2 separate regions of the Homo sapiens genome follow, and region 1 is linked to region 2. The links come from fine-mapping of genetic effects on gene expression. A gene starts in region 2. The other region holds a variant in brackets. All regions are shown on one strand. Distances are between the middles of the regions. Region 1 overlaps ZNF284 (zinc finger protein 284). Region 2 holds the start of ZNF223 (zinc finger protein 223).

Region 1 (8,339 bases), 26 kb before region 2:
TCTCCCCAAGAACATCTAGACAGGAACAAAGCCCTAGGGACACCCTGATTTTTGTCCAGTGAGATGTGTCAGACTTCAGATCTGAAGAACAGAAAGATAATTGTTTGTTGTTTAATCTGCTAAGTGTGTGGTCACTGGGTGACAGCAACAGGCAATACAGTGTCCTTGGCAGGATGGAGAAACAGCAGGGAGTACAACGTGGCTGGAAAATGGAGATGTAGTCAGAGAGGCAGTAGGGGATGAAGAGCAGATCAAGGGTCTCTAAAAGGCACTTAAAGCAGTTGTAACATTAACACAAATAAGAAGCCATAAAGGCTTTTAAGCTGAGGAATGGCAATCTGACTTACATTCCCTAAGGATCACTTTGGCTGCTATGAGGAAAACAGATGTCAGGGTGGGAAGAGGGGGTGGGGGAGCAGGACAACCAGCAGGAAGGAGGTAAGAATCCAGGAAACAGGTTTGGCCATTTATACCAGGGCAATGGAGTTGGGCAATGGACAGAAGTAAAACAGATGGAAGGGTCACGTACAAGGATGCATCGTTGCTTGGTTCTTACCTGAATTCCCTTCTCTTTGGGTTGCTGTCTCCATGATCCAAAACTTTTCTTCTCTTTGGAAGTGAAAAGTATCTCGGTGGGAAAGTTGATGCCCTGTGAACAAAGTCACATGCTTAATCCCAATACATCTTAGGTAAAATTTACTAGAAATTTAGGTTCTCACTGCACACTCGAACTTGAACACTGATATGGTTTGGCGGTGTCCCCAAATCTCATCTTGAATTGTAGTTCCCATAATCCCCACATGTCATAAGAGGGAGCTGGTGGGAGGTAATTAAATCATGGGGGCAGTTTCCTCCATGCTGTTCTCGTGATAGTGGATGAGTTCTCACGAGATCTGATGGTTTTATTTTATTTATGTTTTTTGTTTTTGTTTTTGTTTTTGTTTTTTTTTGAGACGGAGTCTCGCTCTGTCGCCCAGGCTGGAGTGCAGTGATGCGATCTCGGCTCACTGCAAGCTCCGCCTCCCAGGTTCACGCCATTTACCCGCCTCAGCCTCCTGAGTAGCTGGGACTACAGACGCCCGCCACCACGCCCGGCAATTTTTTTTGTATTTTTAGTAGAGACGGGGTTTCACCGTGTTAGCCAGAATGGTCTCCATCTCCCAACCTCGTGATCTGCCCTCCTTGGCCTCCCAAAGTGCTGGGATTACAGGCATGAGCCACCGCGCCCGGCCCTATCTGATGGTTTTATAAGGGGCCTTTTCCCCTTTGCTCGGCACTTCTTCCTGCTGCAATATGAAAAAGGTGCCTTTCTTCCCATCGGCTTTCCACCATGACTGTAAGTTTCCTGAGGCTTTACCAGCCATGCAGAACTGTGAGTCAATGAAATGTCTTTTCTTTATAAATTACCCAGTCTTGGGTATTTCTTCATAGCAGCATAAGAACAAACTAACACAAACACCCTAGGATACAAAGCCATTCCTGGGGCCTGATGTTCCATTACAGAGGGTGCCTGTGCTCACCCACTGATAGCAGGTTTCTGAAGTTCTCCAGCATGACATCTCGATACAGCTTCCTCTGGGAAACGTCCAGCAGCCCCAGCTCCTCCTCGGTGAAGACCACAGCCACATCCTTGAAGGTCACTGCCTCCTACAACAACAAACGTATGCAATCTCAATCTCATGACCAGTGATTCCTGGGAGAAGGGTGGCAATGAGCAGGTGAAGGGGATGGGTGAGAAGTTGCTGTGGATCTTGAAAGATGTAGGTCAACATACAGATTTCCCATTCATTCTGTCTGTATCCTCGCAATGACACTGATTTTCCAGAGCTCCACCAGAAGTGCAATGATGAAAAAGTCCCATAGGTTTACTTTGTGCACTTATTAAGTCTCCTTGTAAGTAACCCTCTAGGACTCTAAATGCAGCATCCTGGGCTGCACATATATAGGTTTCAATGAATCTTGCCAGTTGCTCCAGCAACATTTAGCAATTCAGTCTTAACTTTGTTTGACAATGCCCAGGGTTCTCGTACTTGAACCCTGGATGTAATCATTTTTCTTTCTTTCTTTTTATTTTTTGAGACAGAGTCTCACTCTGTCGCCCAGGCTGGAGTGCAGTGGTGCGATTTCAGCTCACTGCAACCCCTGCCTCCTGGATTCAAGCAATTCTCCTGCCTCAGCCTCCTGAATAGCTGGGATTATAGGCACCTGCCACCATGCCCAGCTAATTTTGTATTTTTAGTAGAGACCATGTTGGCCAGGCTGGTCACGAACTCCCGACCTCAGGCGATTTGCCGGCCTCGGCCTCCCAAAGCGCTGGGATTACAGGCATGAGCCACCACACCCGGCCCATTTTTTTTTTAATATCTGCCAAACTAACAAGTTTACAGTGACCTGTGTGGGACAGCCATGGAGTGGGTCCTCTGTATTCAAGACGCAAACTACATATATTAATTGCAGCACTGAATGTCATGATCTGGAGCCAGTGTGCCTATGATCACACTGAGTGTGTGTGCTCACTCACAAGGCTCAATCCCAAGGCTCTGTGCCTTTGCCTTCCCAGCCACGTGACCTTGGATAAGTTTGCCTACATGCATTCGTTTCCTTTCTGTATAAAGACTGTCACATCAGTTTTCTCCAGGAATAAGCAAGAGAATATAAATGGGGAAAGTCTGTGGCACAGACTAGGTATTTAATTAACATTAGTTAATTTTATTACCTTTTTGTCTTTTTTTTGAGACGGAGTTTCGCTCTTGTTGCCCAGGCTGGAGTGCAATGGCGCAAACTCAGCTCACGGCAACCTCCACCTCCCCAGTTCAAGCAATTCTCCTGCCCCAGCCTCCTGAATAGCTGGGATTACAAGCATGCGCCACCATGCCCAGCTAGTTTTGTATTTTTAGTAGAGATGGGGTTTCTCTTTTTTTGCTGTTTTTTGTTTTGTTTTGTTTTGTTTTTTTTGAGATGGAGTCTCACTCTGTCCCCAGGCTGGAGTGCAGTGGTGCAATCTCAGCTAACGCAAGCTCCGCCTCCTGGGTTCACACCATTCTCCTGCCTCAGCCTCCCGAGTAGCTGGGACTACAGGCGCCCACCACCACACCCGGCTAATGTTTTGTATTTTTAGTAGAGACAGGGTTGCATCATGTTAGCCAGGATGGTCTCGATCTCCTCACCTCGTGATCCGCCTGCCT[T/C]GGCCTCCCAAAGTGCTGGGATTACAGGCATGAGCCACCACACCCGGTGGAGATGGGGTTTCTCCATGTTGGTCAGGCTGGTCTCAAACTCCCGACCTCAGGTGATCTGCCCACCTCAGCCCCGCAAAGTGCTGGGAATATGGGCGTGAGCCACCGCACCTGGCTGGTAATGTCCTTTATTCGTATTTCTTTGGATTTTTTATTATAACTTTCATTATAGTTATCTATTTCATTTCATGTCTGCATACTATTACAGGGAACTGATGATCTATCTTTATTCTAAATAATGAATATTTAATTTTATGTAGTTTTCATTAATACCAATCCTGCAAAGAAAATCATGTATGTGGACCTTACTCTCCCGTCTGATCATTGAAAATAATTTTGGCCAGGTATGGTGGCTCATGCCTGTAATCCCAGCACTTTTGGAGGCCGAGACAAGCAAATCATTTGACCTCTGGAGTTCGAGACCAGCCTTGGCAACATAGCAAAACTCCGTCTCTACAAAATATACAAAAATTAGCCGAGCATGGTGGCACGTGACTATAATCCCAGACACTTGGGAGGCTGATACAGAAGAATCGTTTGAACCCAGGAGGCGGAGGTTGTAGTGAGCCAAGATTGCGCCACTGCACTCCAGCCTGGGCAACACAGCAAGACTCTATTTCAAAAAAGAAATAAAATAAAATAATAATTTAGTTTAATTTAATAATTTCAAACCAGGTGCAGTGATTCACACCTGTAATCCCAGTGCTTTAAGAGGCTAAGGTGGGGGGATTGCTTGAATTCAAGAGTTCAAGACCAGACCAGGCAACACAGCAAGACACCAACTTTATAAATTTTTAAAACTAGCCAGGCATCGTGGTGCGTGCCCGTAGTCCTAGCTACTTGGGAGGCTGGGGCAGGAAGATCTGGACCCCAGGGGTTCAAGGCTGCAGTGGGCTACACTTACATCACTGTACTCTATCCGAGGCAACAGAGCAAAACTCTGTCTCTAAAGAATAAGAATAAACTATAATACAATAATTTCAAATGAAAATTAAAGTGTCAAAAAATAAGAATGTTTAAAATTGTGATCATATATGTCAGATCTCAATTTTTTCTCAAACTCCAAAATCTTTCAAGGGGATATATTACCCTGGTTTTTCTTAAAATAGCCAAAAGCAGATTATCAAATTTCCTGTGATTTTGATAATCTCATTAGAGAGAATTCACCTTATTAATCCCATGTATTTGAATATAAATAATACTATCACCTTTTCAAATATGTATTGGCCACTTCTATTTCTTCTCTAAAATTTACCAATTAATGTATTAATGTCCTTTATTCATATTCCTTTGAATTTTTTTCTCCATTCTGTACATAAGATTCTTATTTTGGATTATGTCTTTTTTAGATATCAAAGTGGTAAATATTTTCACCTTAGGCTGTTATATTCCCTGGTAACACTCTATAAGCCATCTTTGCCATTAGGAATTTAAAGATTTTCTATAGTGAGTGTAGCAATCACTGTCCTTTGGTGCCTGGAGTACTAGGTGCACCTGAGGAGGTGGCACAACAGGAAGAGAAGAGGACCCCCGAGGAGGGGTCAGGGAGGAGCTATGTCACCAGTGGTTGTCATCACTCAAGAGGGCACTCCAGACACCCATACCAGAAGGCATAGGTCCTTCAATGGAGAATCCTCTTTCTTCTTCTCTCTCTCTTTCAATTTAGCAAAATAGCTAACATGCCGACCCTAGGTTTCCTCTCTGAACCTCAGCAGGTTTCTCATATTTCACATATTTAAGAGGAAGATGAGGCTGAGAACTGCATCATTCAGCTGTTCTGAGGAACAAACAAAGGAATAGAACACAGTGACTAGAGAATCTTCTGATATCATGGACATTTGAAACTAAAGCTACCAAAACTAAAAAACTAAAAAAAAAAAAAAAAAAAAAAAAGACAGAAAAATGATTACATCCAGGGTTCAAGTACGAGAACCCTGGGCATTATCAAACAAAGTTGAGACTGAATTGCTAAATGTTGCTGGAGCAACTGGCAAGATTCACCGAAACCGATATATGTGCAGCCCAGGATGCTGCATTTTGGTCAAACTCCTTAATACATAAAGGAATAAGAAAAGACCAGTAAATAACATACACACAATGCATGACTTAAGCATGGGGAAAACAAAAGCTAGCTCTTCCTATGTGAAAATCTCCAGAAATCCTTGTGTGAAGCCACAGTTACAGCCTGCTGTGCCATGCCACATATGGATATTTTATCTACAAAACAACCAACGTGGCACATGTCAAAAGTACTCTTTCAAAACTGAGCTCCTAGTGCCTGTGAGTATAAAGTAGTTAAAAAGAAACATCGGCAGGTGCAGTGGTGCACACCTGTAATCCCAGCACTTTGGGAGGCTGAGGCAGGCAGACCACTTGAGGCCGGGAGTTCAAGACCAGCCTGGCCAACATGGTGAAACCCCGTCTCTACTAAAAATACATATATTAGCCAAGTGTGGTGGTGAGCGCCTGTAATCCCAGCTACTTGAGAGGCTGGGGCAGGAGAATCGCTTGAACCCGGGAGGCGGAGGTTGCAGTGAGCCGAGATTGCGCCACCACACTCCAGTCTGGGCAACAGAGCAAGGCTCTGTCTCGAGGAAAAAAAAAAAAAAAGGAGCATCAATTCAATGGGAACATGATGCAACCATAAATAATGAATATTACATAATATTAAACACAAAGAACACAATTTAAATTAGATAAGTATCAATACAAATACAGTTATGAATATACATGAGGAATAGCATGAGAAAATAAAAATGCCTAATTAGTGAGAAAAGATGTAGTGAAATGGGAGAATTGTTCCTTCCCACTAAATTTCTACTCATAACATAAATAATGGTAAAAGTAAACAAAATCAAATCCAAACGCAAATTCAACACAAAAGAAACAAGGAAGCATCTGGCACACAACAGGTGCACAAATAACTGTTGTTCTCCTTGAGTCTTCCCAAGACCGAGAAAAACATGTGACAATCTTAAGTAGCAAAACAGAATCTGAACAGCAAAAGAGACCAGACTTACTCACCTTGAACATGGTCATTTTTCCTCCTTCTTTGGGGAATTTGCAGAGTTCTCAGTTATGCAGTTCAAGAGAAGACAGAATTGTGCCTGAAACATGCCATGGAAGGCAAAAAAAAAAAAAGAGACATGAAGGGGTGGTCAGTGATGCCACCCAACAGTATGAACATGTGTTGTGAATTAGCACTTGAATGTTCACAGGGGCATTATTCATAATAACCCAAAATTGCACACAACCAAAATGCCTTCCTATGGGTAAATGGACAAATTGTCGCCTATCCATACAATGAAATCTTACTTGGAAATTTAAAGAAATGAAATATTGACTCATGCTACAACATGCATGAACCCTGGAAACATTATGTTAAATGAAAGAAGGCAGTCACAAAAACCCATGGACTGTGTGATCGCATTTATATGAAATGTTCAGAATAGGCAAATGTATCATAGAGAAAGTAGATTAGTGGTTGCTTCACATTTGAGATGAGAATGAGGTTTAACTATAAATGGGCACAAGGAGTCCAACTGGGAGATAAAAATGATCTAAACTGAATCATGATCATGGTTATTCCACTTCACAAAATTCCTAAAAATCACGGAGTTCCATGCCTGAAATGGGTGAAAGCTATATGTGAAATACATCTTGATAGAATTGGAAAAAATAATTGTTAATCTACATGTCATTGAAATCAGTAAGACTGAATTCTGAGTCCATATCAATAGAATATTTATAGTTGAATGAAGGAATGAATAAATGGGGGAGAAATGGAAACTCTTCTTTACAGTAGAATGTCCACTAATCATGTATCTCCCCATAAGGAACTTTATTATTTTCAAAATTTAAAAAAAGTAACTTCACAGTGGACAAATCTGAAAGACTTCATCTTGGCCAAGTGAACAAAGTTGAGATCACCAGTGAAGGGACAAACCAACATCATTTGGACACTGTTAGGTTGCAATGAAAAGGACATCTCACCACTACTATGGTATCCCTGCCAATCATGCATACTCTAAACGTAAACATGAAATTTACCAGACAAACCCCAAATGAATGTCTTTCTGCAAAACAACTTGCCTATACTCTTCAAAAAACCATGCATATAAAAGACAAAGGCTGTGGAATCCTTCTAGATTAAACAAAAGTATAGAAATGTGACAATAAAGACAATGCATAAAATTGGACTTTGAATGGGGTTACAGGTAAAAAGTGGGGCAAGGGATAGTTATAAGGACCAAAAGAAGAAACTGAATAAATTTAAATATGGAAGCTGCAGATTAGATAACAACGTTATGTAATATGGTATCCAACACTATCTAATAAATGACACTACAACTACTATTATTAGCTTTTTAACAGATGTGATATGTAATAGATAACAATATTATTTAATATAATATTTAATTATTTTTTTGAGACAGAGTCTCACTCTGTCATCCAGATCAGAGTGCAGGGGCGCCATCTCAGCTCACTGCAGCCTCTGCCTCCCAGGTTCAAATGATTCTTATGCGTCAGCCTCCCTAATAGCTGGGATTACAGGCGCACGCCCCCTCAAATTTTAAAAAAGTAACTTCACAGTGGACAAATCAGCTAATTTTTGTATTTTTAGTAGAGATGGGGTTTCTCCATGTTGGCCAGGCTGGTCTTGAACTCCTGGCCTCAAGTGATCCACCTGCCTCGGCCTCCCAAAGTGCTACAATTACAGACATAAGCCACCATGCCTAGCCAGTATAATATCTAATAGTATCTAGCATGTTATGTGAAACCCTATAACCAGCCCTTTCTAAACACCTCTTACCAAGACACCCCACAATTATCTTGAAATGTGGGCTTCTTTGCTGCAGAAAGCTACAAGCAACTGTCTCTGGCTACAGGTATGTTCCTGGTGGTATCTGGGTGATCAGCAAGAACAAAGCAAACAGGAAAAATGTAAACATTTGGCAAATTTGGGTAAAGAGTATATGAGAATTTCTAACACTATTTTTGCAATTTTTCTATAGGTTTCAAATGATATGAAAATAAAACGTTAAATATTTTTTTTTTTTGAGACCGGGAGGCAGAGGATGCAGTTTCGCTCTTGTTGCCCAGGCT
Region 2 (8,339 bases):
TGAGATCGCAACACTGTACTCCAGCCTAGGCAACAGAGAGAGACTCTATCTCAAAAAAAAAAAAAAAAAAAAAAAAAATGGTGAGGCATTTTATGCCATAAGGAGGAATTTAGGGATTTTTTTTTTTTTTTTGAGACAGAGTCTCACTCTGTCACTCAGGCTGGAGTGCAGTGGCGCGATCTCGGCTCACTGCAAGCTCCGCCTCCTGGGTTCACGCCATTCTCCTGCCTCAGCCTGCCGAGTAGCTGGGACTACAGGCGCCCGCACCACGCCCGGCTAATTTTTTTTTTTTTTTTTTTTTTGTATTTTTAGTACAGACGGGGTTTCACCATATTAGCCAGGATGGTCTCTATCTCCTGACCTAGTGATCCACCTGCCTCAGCCTCCGAAAAAGTGCTGGGATTACAGGTGTGAGCCACCGCGCCCAGCCAAAGAAAAAATGTGTGAGGTATCTTGTGCCATAAGGAGGAATTTGGAGATAAGAACAGCTGTGGTAATCACTGTCCTTGGGTACTTGGAACAATGAGTACACCTGAGTAGGTGCCAGGTCTGGAAAAGAAGAGGTCACACCAACGCAGGACAGGGAGAAGCAGCGCCACCTATGGATGTCATCACTCAAGGGAGCACTCCAGACATCCACACAACAGGTCACCAGACCCTCAGTGGAGAATTTTTCTTTCTTCTCGTCTCTCTCTTTCACTTGAGCAGAATGGCTAACATTCCTGTTCCTTGATTGCCTCTGATTTTGAGCAGGTTTCTCATATTTCATGAGTTTAGGAGAAGAGATCAGGAACCTCCTCATTCTGCTGCTTTGAGAAGTAAATGAGTGACAGTACACAAGTGACTGGCCAATCTTCAGTATTACTAGACTTTTTTTGTTTTGTTTTCTTTTTTGAGACAGAGTTTCACTCTTGTTGCCCAGGCTGGAGTGCAATGGCCCAATCTCAGCTCACTGCAACCTCCGCCTCCCGGTTTGAAGTGATTCTCGTGCTTCAGCCTACCGAGTAGCTGGGATTACAGGCATGTACCACCATGCCCAGTTAATTTTGTATTTTTAGTAGAGATGGGGTTTCTCCATGTTGGTCAGACTGGTCTCGAACTCCTGACCTCAGGTGATCCGCCTGCCTCAGCCTCCCAAAGTGCTGGGATTACCAGTGTGAGCCACTGCACCCAGCCCAGTATTACTAGCCATTTTAAATGAAGGCTTTCTGGCTGGGTGCGGTGGCTCACGCCTATAATCCCAGCACTTTGGGAGGCCGAGGCGGGCAGATCACTTGAGGTCAGAAGTTCGATACAAGCCTGGCCAACATGATGAAACCCCATCTCCACTAATACTACAAAAATTAGCCAGGTGACAAGAGATCCTCAAAGTCCTGCTGTTCTCCTTGAGTCTTCCCAGGGCAGAGAAAAACACACAACAATCTGAGTAGTGAGATGGAATTTTAACAGTAAGAGAGGCAAGTCCTACTTACCTTGGACATGGTCATTTTTCCTCCTACTTTAGGGAATTTGCAGAGTCCTGAATGACACAGTTCCAGGGAAAGCAGAATTGTGCCTGGAAAGTGCCATGAAGACAGAAAAAGAGACATGAAAGGGTGGCCAGGGATGTCACCCACCAACAAGGACTCATATTGTCAATTAGCACATGAACGCTCACAGCAGCATTATTCATACTAACCCCAAATTGCACACAACCAAAAAGCTCTCCTACAGGTAAAGGGACAGAAAAATTGTGGCATATTCATACAATGGAATCTTATTTGGAAATGTAAAGGAATGAAATACTGACCCATGCAACAACACCCGTGAACCTTGAAAACATTACAGTAAATGAAAGAAGCAAGTCACAAAAACCCACAGACCCTACGATTCCATTTATATGAAATGTCTGGAATAGACAAGTAGAATAGAATAGAAAGTAGGTTAGCAGTTGTTCTAAATTTGAGTTGAGAATGAGGTTCAAAGTAAATGGGCATGAGGAGTCCAACTGGGGGATGAAAGTGATCTCGGCTGAATTATGATGATGATTACCCCACTTCAAAGTTCCTAAAGACCACTGAACTGACTTGTATACCTGAAATGGGTGAATGCTATAACTAAAATAAACCTAGAGTTTAAAAAAAAAACTGTTAATGCACATATCATTAGAATCAATAAGACTGGATTCTGAGTCCACATTGATAGAATATTTATAGTTGAACAAATCAATGAACCAATAGAGGAGAAATGGAAGCTCTTTTTTACAAGAAAATGCCCACTAATAATGTATTTTCCCATAAGAAACTTCATAATTTAAAAAAAAGTAACATAAGAGTGGAAAAATCTGAAAGACATCTTCTTGGCCAGTGACAAAGCTGAGATCACCAATGAAGGGACAAACGAACATCACTTGGACCTTGTTATGTTACAATGAAAAGGGCATCCTATTGCACCATTGTACCCCAGCCTGGGTGACAAGAGCAAAACTGTCTCAAACAAAAAAAAAAAAAAAGAAAAGGGCATCTTAACACTCCTGTGGAATCCCCACCAACAATGTATAATCTAAACCTAAATGTGAAATATATCTGTAGGGGAAAGAAAAAGAGATCAGGCTGTTACTGTGTCTACGTAGAAAAAGGAAGACATGAGAAACTCCATTTTGATCTGTACTAAGAAAAATTCTTCTGCCTTGAGATGCTGTTAATCTGTAACCCTAGCCCCAACCCTGTGCTCGCAGAAACATGTGTTGTATTGACTCAAGGTTTAATGGATTTAGGGCTGTGCAGGATGTGCTTTGGTAAAAATGTGTTTGCAGGCAGTATGCTTGGTAAAAGTCATTGCCATTCTCCAGTCTCGATTAACCAGGGACACCATACACTGCGGAAGGCCACAGGGACCTCTGCCCAAGAAAGCCTGGGCATTGTCCAAGGTTTCCACCCACTGAGACAGCCTGAGAGATGGCCTCGTGGGAAGGGAAAGACCTGACCGTCCCCCAGCCCGACACCCATAAGGGGTCTGTGCTGAGGAGGATTAGTGAAAGAGGAAGGCCTCTTTGCAGTTGAGGTAAGAGGAAGGCATCTGTCTCCTGCTCATCCCTGGGAATGGAATGTCTCGGTATAAAACCCAATCGTACATTCTATTTACTGAGATAGGAGAAAACCGCCTTATGGCTGGAGGTGAGACATACTGGCGGCAATACTGGTCTTTACTGCACTGAGATGTTTGTGTAAAGTCACACATAAATCTGGCCTATGTGCACATCCAGGCACAACTCCTTTCCTTAAACTTATTTATGACAGAGTCCTTTGCTCACATGTTTTCCGGCTGACCCTCTCCCCACCATTACCCTATAGTCCTTCCACATCCCCCTCACCAAGATAGTAGAGATAGTGATCAATAAATACTGAGGGAACTCAGAGACCAGTGCCGGTACAGGTCCTCATTTGCTGAGCGCCGGTCCCCTGGGCCCACTTTTCTTCCTCTATACTTTGTGTCTGTGTCTTATTTCTTTTCTCAGTTTCTCATTTCCACCTTGTGAGAAACACCCACAGGTGTGGAGAGGCAGGCCCCCTTCAATATCAAACTCCAAATGAACAACTATGGAAATGTGACAGCTAAAGACAACGCATAAACTGGACTTTGAATAGGTGAAGGGTGGGGCAGAGGACAGTCATAAGGACTTTAAATGAAAAATTTAACAAATTCGTATATGGAACTGCAGATTAGATAACATGATGCTAGGTAATATGCTATCCAACACTATCTAGTAAGTACACTACAAATACTAGTATTCTTTTAACACATCTATCTGACATGTAATCGGTAACAGTATTATTTAACATAATATCCAATATTATCTACCATGTTATGTGAAACCCTATAACCAGCCCTTCCTAAATGCCTCTTACCAAGACACCCCACAATTACCGTGGTATGTGGGCTTCCTTGCTGCAGAAAGCTACCAATCAGCTGTCTCTGGTTACAGGTATGTTCCTGGTGGTATTTGGTTGATGGTCATCAACAAAGCAAACAGGAAAAATGTAAACACTTGGCAAATTTGGGTAAAGGGTATATGAGAATTTCTTATACTGTTTTTGCAATTTTTCTATAGCTTTGAAATGATATCAAACGTTTTAAAATATCAGGCAACAAGAGACCACTCACCAAGTGACAGGGACAACTTTAAGGCTTTCATTTGTATTATCTCTTTCAATTCGCAAAACAATTCTATTAGGATGACCCTATAAGCACCATTTTAAAGAACAGCAATGGGAAGTACAGAGACATTAACATTCCACATCACACTGCGAGAAAGAGTGTACACACTGCATACGTAGGGAGGCGGACTGAGCGAGGTCAAAGTCCTGGAAACCCTCAGAGCAGGGCACACAAGGCCACCCCAATCCCACCCCCCGGGAGGCGAGCAAAGCCCCCCGACGCCAGAAGGCTCCGCTGACGGGAACAATAAACACCCTCCCCGCCCTCGCACCTCTAAACCTCTGCTCTTCGCCAAGGCTTCTTTTCCCCTGAGACGATCATCGATCATCGGGTGGTTGCGAGCCTCAAGCAAAGGGGGTTCGTTCAAAATGTCCTGCAAGACGCAGAAATGGCTCAAACTACCCCGGTCATTAAAGCAGGAACCTCAGACTAGGAGACCGGAAGTGTCCTCTCTGCGCCAGAGTGTCTGGACTCCACTCCCCAGAATTCCCCGGACCCGCCCCCCTGAGCCAAAGGGCCCGGGACTCCGCAGAGTGTCTGGACTATCGTTCCCAGAATTCAACGGTTCACCTGCCAGAGCCAAAATACCCAGTGTTCCACGAGCCAGTGGACTACACTTCCCGTAAAATGGACTACTCTTCCCAGAATTCTCCGGAAACGCCTACCTGAGCTGAAGTATCAGGAATCCCGCAAGGTGTCTGGACTGCAGAGCCTCAGATGCAAAAGGAAAATGTCCATCACCTCACCCTTTAGGCTCAAGTGTTGCGACTACATGGTGCTCCTCGATTACACTTCCCGCAACACCCACGGGGAACGAATTTCATAGCCCCAGGTTCCTGGTGGGGAATGCAGACTGTTACCCTGACAGTTGTCCTTCCCAGAGTCCTCGAGCGAAAATATTGAATAGAAAGAATTTATGAAGTCTAAATGTCTCCCATGATTGACAGGAGTGTTCTTGGACAGGGAACAAGCGAGGAGATACAATATTCAAGGAGCTAGATAGAGTGACTGTTGAGCCGTCAGATGGCTGAAAGGAGGCTCAGGGTTTAAAGCAAGGATATCCAACTCCAGGGCCACAGACCTGTACCGGTCCACTGACTGTTAGGAACCGGGCGGCACAGCAGGAAGTGAGCGGCAGGTGAGGGAGCATTATGGCCTGAGCTCCACCTCCTGTGAGATCAGCCCAGCATTACATTCTCATAGGAGCGCGGATCCTATTGTGAACTGTGCGTGCGAAGGATCTAGGTCAGGCGCTCCTTATGAGAATCTAATGGCTGAGGTGGAACAGTTTCATCCCGAAACCATTCCCCAGTCCGTGGAAAAATTGTCTTCCACAAAACCGGTCCATGGTGCTAAAACGGTTGGGGACCACTGGTTTAAAGAATGAGCCAGGTAGAATGGGTTGGGAGGGGCAATGAGAAGCCAGGAAAGCATCAGCCCCTGTAACTGAAAAGTAGATCAGTGGCTTCCCGTTTGCAACGTCCAGTTAACAAGAGGGAGATCTGGTATAAAGAAAGTGATTTATTCTAGAGCTAGCGTAGGGGAAGTAGCACAGGTGTTGTCTTTAAGTGCACGGCTTGGCTTTTAGAGCAGAAAGCAGGCACTTTTAAAAGGTAGGGGAGGAAGAGGGAAGGGGTCTGTGTGCTGGCTTGGTGCCTTATCTATTAGGCAGTTGAGCTGGCTTTTTCATGGGCAGAAATAAGTTGTAACCAGAAGGGAGAGAGTAGCAGGCACGCTTTCAACTGTTGTCTCTTCAGGCAACCTCCTGGTGAGTGAGAGTTCAGAGGCCAGCATGCTTTAGTTTGTAAATTGACTGTTAATTCTGGAGGAGAGTTCTGGCTTGGAGCACACAGTTAGATGAACTTTCCCTGTAGGAAGTGTCTGGTGAAGGGGAGGTAAAAGTCTATATTTGCATTTTTAAAGGGCTACATAGGAAGTGGGGAACTAAGGGAATGAGAAAAGAGAGAGAAATAAATAAGCTGTCTCTTAGAAAAATGGTGGTTCTCAGTTACAGCCCTAGTCCAGATGCTGTGGTACCACTGGTTTGACAGGAAAAACAAAATTCCAGCCACCAATGGAGAAGCTGTGTCCTCATGGAAAAGCTACATTTAACATTCTCATGGTAGTAATATTTCTACTTTAGATGTAGAAACGCTAAATTTCAGAGAAGTTAGTGAATTGCTAAGTATCTTAAAGCAAGTATAACTGTTGAAGAGCTTGGCATTGGTATCAATCTGACACCCAATGTCTGATTCAATGCCATAAAACTGGAGAAGATTCTATAGGTGACGGAGCATGATTTATTATTAAGAGTTTCTTCCTTTCCATTTCTTGGTTAAAATATCTTCATTATAGGAAACAATTTGAAAACTGGCATATGTTAGTTGAAAGACATTAATAATAGTATAAAGCTAAATCAGGAAACAATTCATCTAAAATTCTCTTTTGAAGATAAACCATATTTTTTGTCCTCCCAAATAAACATACATTGACCTGTCGACCTATATTTTTCTTTTTAAAAAGAGTCTAATGTCCTGTATCCATTTTCCTAAAGTAAAAAAAAATAAAAAAAAATTAAAAAAAGACTGTTCACAATTTTTTTTTGATACAGAGTCTTGCTGTTTTGCCCAGGCCAGAGTGCAGTGCGCGATCTCGGCTCACTGCAACCTCTGCTTCCTGGGTTCAAGTGATTCTCCTGCCTCAGCCTCCCAAGTAGCTGGGACTACAGGCATGTGCCACTACGCCTGGCTAATTTTTTGTATTTTTAGTAGAGATGGGGGTTTCACTGTGTTAGCCAGGATGGTCTCAATCTCCTGACCTCGTGATCTGCCCACCTTGGCCTCCCAAAGTGCTGGGATTACAGGTGTGAGCCACTGCACCTGGCTGACGTTTCACAGTTTGGTTTGGACAAAAATTAAGGTGACTGAGCAACCACATAGTGCCAAACAAATTTTCAATGCCCCCTTGAAAATTGAGTGATGGCTATTCCTATACCAATTACAGCTGTATCCTTACTCTACTCTGCATTCACAAAAGATAAAATTTATTGATACTCTCAGTGGTAGTGTATGCAAGGAGCTGAGCCTGAGATGTTAGGCGGCACCTGGCATCAAAGGTCCCTGCTGTTGCCCACGTCCCTGTGCTCTGGGCCTCTGATGGGAGGAGCAGCCTCCAAGATCTGTGAAATACTTCTGGGGTCATTCTTCCATTGTCTTGGACAATAGGTCCTGGTTTGAGTCAACATGGTCAATCCATACTAATCTCATAAATCAGTTGTTCAGCCACACCCTTGTTTTCTCCAGGACAGGGTTTTGCATGTTTTCCAAAGTAGATAAGCTGCAAATTTTAAAAGTATTTAGTTCTCTTTACCTTTTAATTAGTAATTCCGGCTTTCAGTCACTTCTCACTTTCTACATTTTACTATAGGTAGTCAAGATTATTCAAGATGCAACTTCAACACATTGTTAAGAAATAGTGTCAGCTAAATATTCAATTACATTGCTCACAAGTTCTACCTACCAAAAAACACTAGGACCTGAATATAATTCAGCCAAATTATTTACCCCTTTATAACAAGAACCCCGCTTTCTTCAGTTTCCAGTAACATGTTCCACATTTCTGACTGAGGTCTCATCATAATGGCCTTTACTGTCCATATTTCTATCAACATTCTGATCGTGACCACATAGGTTTACTCTAAGAAGACTGATGCTTTCTCTAGCTCTCATTCTGTCCTTCTGAGCCCTAACCAGAATTGTCTTTAACAGTCCAATCATGACAATGTAGGTTTTTCCTAGCATGCATTTCAGAAGTCTCCCAGCCTCTACCCATTATACAGTCACAAAGATACTTCCACATTTTTAGATATTTGTTACAACAGCAATCCCACTTCTCAATACCAATATTCTTAGTCACAAAAAACCATGGGCTAGCTGGCTTATAAGCAACAGAAACTTATTCCTCACAATCAAGGCACTGGGAGATTTTATGTCTGAAGTGGGGCTGCTTTCTGGTTCATAGGTGGCACCTTGTTGCAATGTCCTCAAATGGTGGAAGTGATGAACAAGTTTCCTCAGGTCTCTTTTACAAAGGGACTCATCCCATTAATAAGAGTTCTGCCCTCATAATCTAATCACCCTCCA

The links.
Region 1: its variant is fine-mapped to the expression of ZNF223 in whole blood (TOPMed, PIP above 0.99).

What each region holds. Positions count from the first base shown.
Region 1 is chr19:44,074,323-44,082,661 of GRCh38, reverse strand. It overlaps ZNF284 (zinc finger protein 284), which reads right to left. Exons shown (of 5, transcript NM_001037813.4): 2 at 6,258-6,340; 3 at 1,521-1,647; 4 at 557-649. The coding sequence starts at 6,272. Among named protein-coding and RNA genes, the nearest start is that of ZNF284, 6.3 kb to the right of the region's middle. The variant T/C (reference allele first, on the strand shown) is at 3,186.
Region 2 is chr19:44,048,325-44,056,663 of GRCh38, reverse strand. It overlaps ZNF223 (zinc finger protein 223), which reads right to left and starts at 4,628. Exons shown (of 5, transcript NM_013361.6): 1 at 4,469-4,628; 2 at 1,473-1,555. The coding sequence starts at 1,487. RefSeq lists enhancers at 4,402-4,641, 4,461-4,962 and a silencer at 4,682-4,741.